3 separate regions of the Homo sapiens genome follow, and all the other regions are linked to region 1. Evidence: fine-mapped expression QTL. A gene starts in region 1. Each other region holds a variant in brackets. All regions are shown on one strand. Distances are between the middles of the regions.

Evidence for each region. PIP is the estimated chance that this variant, and not a neighbour inherited with it, causes the effect.
Region 2: its variant is fine-mapped to the expression of ABCC1 in whole blood (TOPMed, PIP above 0.99).
Region 3: its variant is fine-mapped to the expression of ABCC1 in whole blood (TOPMed, PIP 0.99).

The regions. Positions count from the first base shown.
Region 1 is chr16:15,948,340-15,950,976 of GRCh38, reverse strand. It overlaps ABCC1 (ATP binding cassette subfamily C member 1 (ABCC1 blood group)), which reads right to left and starts at 1,361. Exons shown (of 31, transcript NM_004996.4): 1 at 1,178-1,361. The coding sequence starts at 1,225. It overlaps LOC107984869 (a long non-coding RNA gene), which reads left to right and starts at 1,806. Exons shown (of 3, transcript XR_001752339.2): 1 at 1,806-2,186.
Region 2 is chr16:16,005,325-16,007,987 of GRCh38, reverse strand. ABCC1 (ATP binding cassette subfamily C member 1 (ABCC1 blood group)) reads right to left here. Exons shown (of 31, transcript NM_004996.4): 2 at 1-172. Among named protein-coding and RNA genes, the nearest start is that of ABCC1, 57 kb to the right of the region's middle. The variant CCACCATCAT/T (reference allele first, on the strand shown) is at 1,067.
Region 3 is chr16:16,029,121-16,031,783 of GRCh38, reverse strand. The region is part of intron 5 of ABCC1 (ATP binding cassette subfamily C member 1 (ABCC1 blood group)); the gene reads right to left. Among named protein-coding and RNA genes, the nearest start is that of ABCC1, 81 kb to the right of the region's middle. The variant T/C (reference allele first, on the strand shown) is at 1,272.

The sequences.
Region 1 (2,637 bases):
GTGTGGTAGGTTATTAAACACAATGATACCCTACTAAAAAAAACAAACAAACAAAACCAAACCCTCCAATGGGGCCCTGGAGGATGACTTTTCAACACTCCAAATGCAACCCTCGAGGAAAGGCCGGCAAAACAGGACAAGAAAGTATTTTTGGAAGCTGATCACCAGCTCCTAAGAACCAAGGCTGTTTCTCCTGATTCCTAAACAAAAGAGGAGAGAGAAACAGTCGTGTCCAGATTTGCCTACTGCGTTCACCAACAATCAAGACAGCACGAGACAGAAGTGCCTGCCTTCCTGGAACAAAGAGGCAAATCGCATTACGGAGAAGCTGAAGCCCAAAAGACTGGGGCTTAAACCACAGCAAGTGGACTCCAGACACCCAGTCAGGCTCCGCAGGCCACGTTACAGAAGAAAACTTGCCGGGGTTAAATCTAAGGGGCATCCCCAGAGAGGAGCTCCACGTGTTGCAGGGAAGGGAGGGCAGGACCACAGCTACCAGGGTCCTGGGCGTCCTCAGCTGCACCCCAAGTCTGCCCCGAGCCGAGGGTCAGGTAGGGCACATCAAGGGTGGACATCCCCCTTCTTCCCTGGTTCCCCCAAACTTCCCCCGCAGTATCTAAGTAGAAAGAACAAAAAAAACAAAGCTAGGTAACCACAGAAGAGTAATGTGGCTTGTACGACAACTTTGGGGAGACAATGAAAGTCCCTTTCTACAATCTAAGCCCCTCCCCAGCTCACCCCGTTGGTCACGGAGTATTTTTCGTGAAAAGGGGGGACCCTAACCACAAAAAAGATGGGAAAACAGAAGCAGAGAGACACCCCTCTTCCCGCCCCCCATCTCTAGCGTCCCCTTCCCTGGAAGGTTGTTTTTACAGACGGGAACCCCAAAACAGGAAGGCCTCCTCACGGCGGCTCTGACCCGACCCGACCCTCCAAAACCCCAGGGCTGGGCACGCGGCCCCCCACGCTCTGCTCCGCAGGAACTGAGTCACCCAAGTTTCCCCCATGCCTTGCACCCCCGAAAGGGGCTGGGCCGCGGGCGACGTGAGGGTCCCGGGCCCCCGAGGCCGGCAGCAGAGCGGGGAGCGGGGTGCCCCGGGCGGCTGCGGGCCCGGTGCTTTCCCTCCCCGCCGGCCTCCCTCCGTCCCGCCGGCCTCACGCGGCCCCCGGCACGTACCCAGAGCGGGTCGGAGCCATCGGCGCTGCAGAAGCCCCGGAGCGCCATGCCGGTGGCGCGGGCGGCGGCGGGCACCGGGCGGCGGGTGATCGGGCCCGGTTGCTGGCGCGGGCGGCGGCGGGCACCGGGCGGCGGGTGATCGGGCCCGGCTGCTGGCGCTAGCGCTGGCGGCGGCGGCGGCGGCGGCGCAGGGAGCCGGGGCCGGGGCCGCAACGCCGCCTGGTTGGCCCGCGCGTCACGGGGATGCGGCGGCCCCGCCCCACCCCGCCCCGCCCCGGCGCCCGCTCACCTCGCGCGTCTCGGCGTGGGCAGCCGGACCAGCCACCTCTCGGCGCCCCGGGCCTGGACCCCGCGCCACCCCCACCCCAGATCCTCCAAGGCTTAGGCCCACCCGCTCGCGGACGGGCCTGGGGAGCGTTGGCTCGCCTTCCGGAAGCGCCTGGGATCTTTGGGGCCACACACCCTGCGACCACTTTTCAAATGCTGTTTAAGGACAGTATCCGTCACCAGGGGAAAATAACGTGAACGGAGCCCCCTACCTGCCTGGAGTGTACCGGGCGCCTTAACTGTGCCCTCATTTCATCCTGTAAAGTCTCCACGTTCATGAAGGAAGAAACCCAGGTGCAGAGAGGTTGAGTGATTCCCTCTGCCCAGGGTCACCTGGCTAATCACTTGCAGGGCTGGGATTTGAACCCGGTCCGCTGACTCCAAAGCTGAGTCACACAGAAGGAGGTGAATACTGTTATTCACCTACCTTTTACAGATGGGGAAACTGAGGTTCAGAAAGGCGAAGTGACTTGCCCGAGGTCACACAGTTAATAAGGAGTGAAAGTGGAAGTGAGATTCAAACCCGTGAGCAGCCTGATTCCGGAGCACTGATGACCCAGACGGCGCCAGTCTCCATCACTAACAGCTGTTGACCTCACCTGTGTGCAGAGCGCCTTTGCTTCTTCTCAACCTCTTTAAGCATCACTTAGAAATAACCAGGTTATTGATCCTCACCTCAGAGGTAAGGAAACTGAAGCCTGGAGACATGATAATCGTAGGCCAGGCATGGTGGCTCGTGCTTGTAATCAAGCACTTTGGGAAGCCGAGGCGGGCCGATCACATAAGGTCAGGAGTTCAAGACCAGCCTAGCCAACATAGCAAAACCCTGTCTCTACTAAAAACACAAAAATTAGCCGGGCATGGTGGCGGGCACCTGTAGTCCCAGCTACTTGAGAAGCTGAAACAGGAGAATCACTTGAACCTGGGAGGCGGAGGTTGAAATGAGCTTAGATCACACCACTGCACTCCAGCCTGGGCAACAGAGCAAGACTCTGTCTCAAAAAATAATAATAAAAAAAATTAATATGCATTCACAGTGACAAGGCTTCCTAAGGCTGTGTTCTTAGCAATTTACACAAATTAACTTGTGCAATCCTCACAACCCCATGAGGTAAGAAGTAGTATTATCCCCA
Region 2 (2,663 bases), 57 kb before region 1:
TGGTTTTGTTGAGAGGTGTCATCTGAATGTAGCCTCGGTCATGTCGGGAGAGATAGAGGAAGTAGAAGGGGAAACAGGCCCAGAGGTAAAAACAAGGCACCCACACGAGGACCGTGTTCTGAAAGCACTTGGTGAAGTCGGGGTTGCTGGTATTCCACGTGACATTCCAGTCCTGCGAACACAAACACAGGCGAGGGGTCAGCAGGACACACCCCAGAGGACAGGAGCTCGCCTGGAGCATGAAACCAGCTGCCACGGGGTTTGAAGAAACAGACAAGGCTCCTATATATCCAAGGACCTTTCAGGATGAACACGCAAACTAAAAAGATCAGTAGCCAGAAAGACTAAGAAATGAGGAACAAGGGATAAAGGTATGTGGTGTCTTCTGCACTCCCACCTGAGCAACAGAGACCCTGTCTCAAAATAAATAAATAAAAATAAAGCTCTCTTAACAGGAGCATACAGGTCAGGTGCAGTGGCTCATGCCTGTAATCCCAGCACTTTGGGAGGCCAAGTGGGCAGACCACTTTAGGCTGGGAGTTCGAGACCAGCCTAGGCAAGATAGTGAGATGCTGCCTCTATGAAAAACACAAAAAGTGGCTGAGCATGGAGCGTGCCTGTATTCCCAGCCACTCAGGCGGCTGAAGTGGGAGGAGTGCCTGAGCCTGGAAGGCGGAAGTTGCAACGAGCTGAGATCATGCCACTGTACTACACCCTGGGCAACAGAGCGAGACCCTGTCTCTCACACACACACACACACACACACACACACAACAGTGCATACACACAAAAAAACCCACCAACAACAAAAAGGTATGTAGCATCTCATCTCACATTAACAGTCCCCAGAACCTGTGGCAAGTCCCACTGTAGTACGAAAGATGGAGAGAGCCATTTAAAGGAACCCTGAAGGATATTCTCTTATAACCGAAGAGCCCTGTGTCATCTAGATCACTCTGACCTTGTGAACTGAGGACTTTCTAATCATCTTCATTCATCATCATCACCTTCCCCACTATGACCATCACCACCACCAATATCACTGCCAACACCATCACCACCATCA[CCACCATCAT/T]CATCACCATCGCCACCATCACCACCACCATCACCGCCACCGCCACCGCCACCGCCACCGCCACCACCACGGATAACAACCAAACTGCAGTTCTGTATGCCAGGCTTTATTCTAAGTACCTCATGTGTATTATCTCCTTTCATTCTGTAATTATTTTTATCATCTCCTTTTTCAGATGTGAAACTCAGGCACAGAAGGGTTAAATACTGTGTCCAGTATCACACAGCTGGTAAGCTCTGGAGCTGAATTCAAACTCGGGCAATGTTGTTCAAGTCTGCATTTTGCCACTGAGCTGTCCAGCCTTGGAAACAAATTTTGTTTCAATTACTTTTACTTAAAAAAAAAAAGCCTGTATTTTGCTAAAGAGCCATGCCAAATAGACAAATTCATAGATACATACATAAATAGATCAGATGTACCTGCCCAAGAATAAACCTCCACCATCAGCTGTTCTGTAATGAAGAATTTAAATTTTTCTTTTTTTTTTCTTTTTTTGAAATGAGGTCTTGCTCTGTTGCCCAGGCTGAAGTGTGGTGGTAAGATCACAGCTTCCTGTGCCTTGAACTTTTGGGCTCAAGCAGTCCTCCCACCTCTGCCTCCCAAGCAGCTATACTACAGGTGTGCACCACCATGCCCAGCTGAAGAATTTAAATTTAATTCAAGCCATAATCTGGCAACTGACTAAATAACTTTGGGAAAACTTACTACCCTTTTTGGGGTCTCAATTTCCTATCTCCACCACAATTCAATCGGATAAAATAAGAAGTACAAAATAGGTTTCCCCACCCACAGTTTGGCCCATAGATGGCTTGTTGTTATTGCTGTTGTTTTAGGCATACTTTTTGTTTTTAAAAAAATTAGATTAGATCCCAACATTTAAAATTTGATTTCCGGCTTTTTATTTTTATTTTTTTTTTTCTTGACAGAGTCTTGCTTTGTCACCCAGACTGGAATGCAGTGGCATGATCTCAGCTCACTGCAATCTCTGCTTCTCGGGTTCAAGCGATCTCGGCTCACTGCAATCTCTGCTTCCCGGGTTCAAGTGATTCTCCTGCCTCAACCTCCTAAATAGCTGGGACTGCGGTCACCCCGCTTGGCTAATTTTTTTTGAATTTTTAGTAAAGACAAGGTTTTACCATATTGGCCAGTCTAGTCTCGAAGTCCTAAACCTCAGGTGATCTGCCAACCTCAGTCTCCCAAAGTGTTGGAATGACAGGCGTGAGCCACCACGCCCGGTCTCTGGCATAACTTTAAAAATCAGAAAATCTTCTGGGCGCAGTGGCTCACGCCTGTCATCCCAGCACTTTGGGAGGCCGAGGCAGGAGGATCACGAGGTCAGGAGATCAAGACCATCCTGGCCAACATGGTAAAACCTCATCTCTACTAAAGTACAAAAAACTAGCCAGGCATGGTGGCGCATGCCTGTAGTCTCAGCTACTTGGGAGGCTGAGGCAGGGGAATCACTTGAACCCAGGAGGCGGAGGTTGCAGTGAGCCAATATCATGCCACTGCACTCCAGCCTGGCAACAGAGCAAGACTGTGTCTCAAAAAAAAAAAAAAAAATCAGAAAATCTGGTGGTGCTGGGCC
Region 3 (2,663 bases), 81 kb before region 1:
AGTAAGTGCATGGGGGCTGATCTGGTGTACGAAGGTCAGAGAAGGCGCCCCCGAGGCAGACAGTCAAGCTGGCACCTGAAGGGTGAGTAGATGAGAACTAAGTAACAAGGAAAGGCAACGCATTCCCAACAGACAGCAGTGTGTGCAAAGGCCCGGTGGTAGAAGAAAGCATGGTAGACTCCAGGAACCAAGAAGGGGCCTGAGTAGTCTACACTGGAGGCTGTGCACAGTCTACACTGCAGGCCACATATTTTGGTCTTCATTCTAAGGGCAATGGGAAGTACTGAGAGATTCTAAGCAAGCTATCAAAGAACTCATTTCCCAGAGAAATGAAGATGAGCCCCAAGTCAACAACATGCAGGCAAGGAAAGGGACCGATACAGAGCTCCTGGGATGACAGACAAAGCCTGGCTTTCAACATGGATGCATCCGGGTCTAAATTCTGAAACACAAGCTTTAGCAGCAGAGGGAAGAGAGGTCACCAGGCAGTAATGAAAGCTTTAGCCAAGGACTCCACTCAAAGTTCCAGCCTTGTGCAGATATAAGGCATTTACAGAGCCCGATAAGGTGGCATACTCTCGTCCAGTGGTTTTCCATTCAAGGCTGGGCGTGCTTTTTAAAAAATACTGTATCCTGGCTGGGTGTGGTGGCTCATGCCTGTAATCCCAGTACTTTGGGAGGCCAAGGCGGGCAGATCACTTGTGGTCAGGAGTTCGAGACCAGCCTAGGCAACATGATGAAACCTCGTCTCTACCAAAAATACAAAAAATTAGCTGGATGTGGTGGTGGGTGCCTGCAAGCTCAGCTACTCGGGAGGCTGAGGCAGAATTGCTTGAATCCATGAGGCGGAGGTTGCAGTAAGCTGAGATCGTGCCACTACACTCCAGCCTAGGGACCCTGTCTCAAACAAAATAAAAATAAAATTTAAAAAAATACTGTATCCGGGCCCTACCCGCACCAGGCAATCTGATTAAGCTGGTTCTGGGTGCGACTGGGGCACTGAAGCTTTGTTTTTGTTTTAAACTTCCAGATTTTTCTTGGAAAAGTGGCTGGGCAGGAAATATGCAAGGTAAGCCAAGAACATCTTGTCACACCGGACAACAAGGAAACTAAGCATGAACAGGATTGTTAAAAGGCTCAAGAGCCAAGCAGAAGTGGCCGCTGCAGGCTAAAAGAGGGACAATTTGAGCTTTGACAAGGAGAATAAGTACAACAGGCTGAAACATACCAAGCAAGGTTTTTGTTTTGTTTTGTTTTTTGAGATGGAGTCT[T/C]GCTCTGTCGCCCAGGCTGGAGTCCAGTGGCGTGATCTTGGCTCACTGCAAACTCCGCCTCCTGGGTTCAAGTGATCCTCCCGCCTCGGCCTCCTAAGTAGCTGGGATTACAAGCATCAGCCACCACACTGGGCTAATGTTTGTATCTTTAGTAGAGATGGGGTTTCACCATGTTGGTGAACAGGCTGGTCTCGAACTCCTGACTCAAGTGATCTGCCCACCGTGGCTTCCCAAAGTGGTGGGATTACAGGCTTGAGCCACTGCGCCCAGCCTTACATGTTTATGTACACAAATTTCATATTGACGCTGGAAATAAAGAGAAACATCTGATGTTGTCAGTGAACCAGGTCATTGTTTGAACGCAGAAAAAGCGGAAAGAAACAAGTATTTTCTCCACCTTTCCCAAATGTACTCATTTGGTTCACCAGGGTTGGAGAAGGCTTCCCTGAGGAAAACAGTCATTTATTCGATCACCACAGAGTGATCAGTGATCAAAGAAATGAAGGGGAAACTCTTTTCCATAAAAAAATCCCAGCTAAAACATAAAGAATGATATCATAGAAGAATGAGCCATTGTACAAACACAATGGATTACTGGAATATTTGATAATAATGAATTATTATTAAAGTTAGTATTACAGTCACATATACATGTTTTTTGTCAAGACAAGGTCTACCTATATTGATCAGGCTGGTCTCAAACTCCTGGGCTTAAGTGATCCTCCTGCCTCAGCTTCCCAAAGTGCTGGAATTACAGGCATGAGCCATCACATGCAGCCCAACAGTTACAGTTTTTAAAATTCTTATCTTTCAGATGTTATCATTAGAGAAAGTTGAGCAATGAACAACAGGAACTCTGTTATTTTTGCAACTTTTTGTGAGCCAAACTATTGCGAAATAAAAAGTCATTTAAAATAAACAAATCCATGTCCTTCAGAGATACATATTAAAACGTTCACCTATGCAATGCATGGTAAAGAGCTCATGGCAGCTGGGCGCAGTGGCTCACACTTGTAACCCCAACACTTTGGGAGGCTGAGGCGGGAGAACTGCTTTGAGTTCAGGAGTTCGAGACCAGTCTGGGCAACATGGCAAGACCCTGTCTCTACAAAAAATATAAAAATTGGCCGGACATGGTGGCACGTGCCTGTAGTCCCAGCTACTCAAGAGGCTGAGGCACGAGAATGGCTTGAACCCGGGAGGCAGAGGTTGCAGCAAGCTGAGATTGTGCCATCGCACTCCAGCCTGGGTAATAGTGAGACCCTGTCTCAAAAATAAATAAAAAGAAAAGAAAAAGAGCTCATGGTAGTTCATTATCCTAGGCTGTCTACTTTATGTTTCCATCATAAAAGGCTAAATAAAAAGCTCCTCCAGTGATTCAAATACACAGCC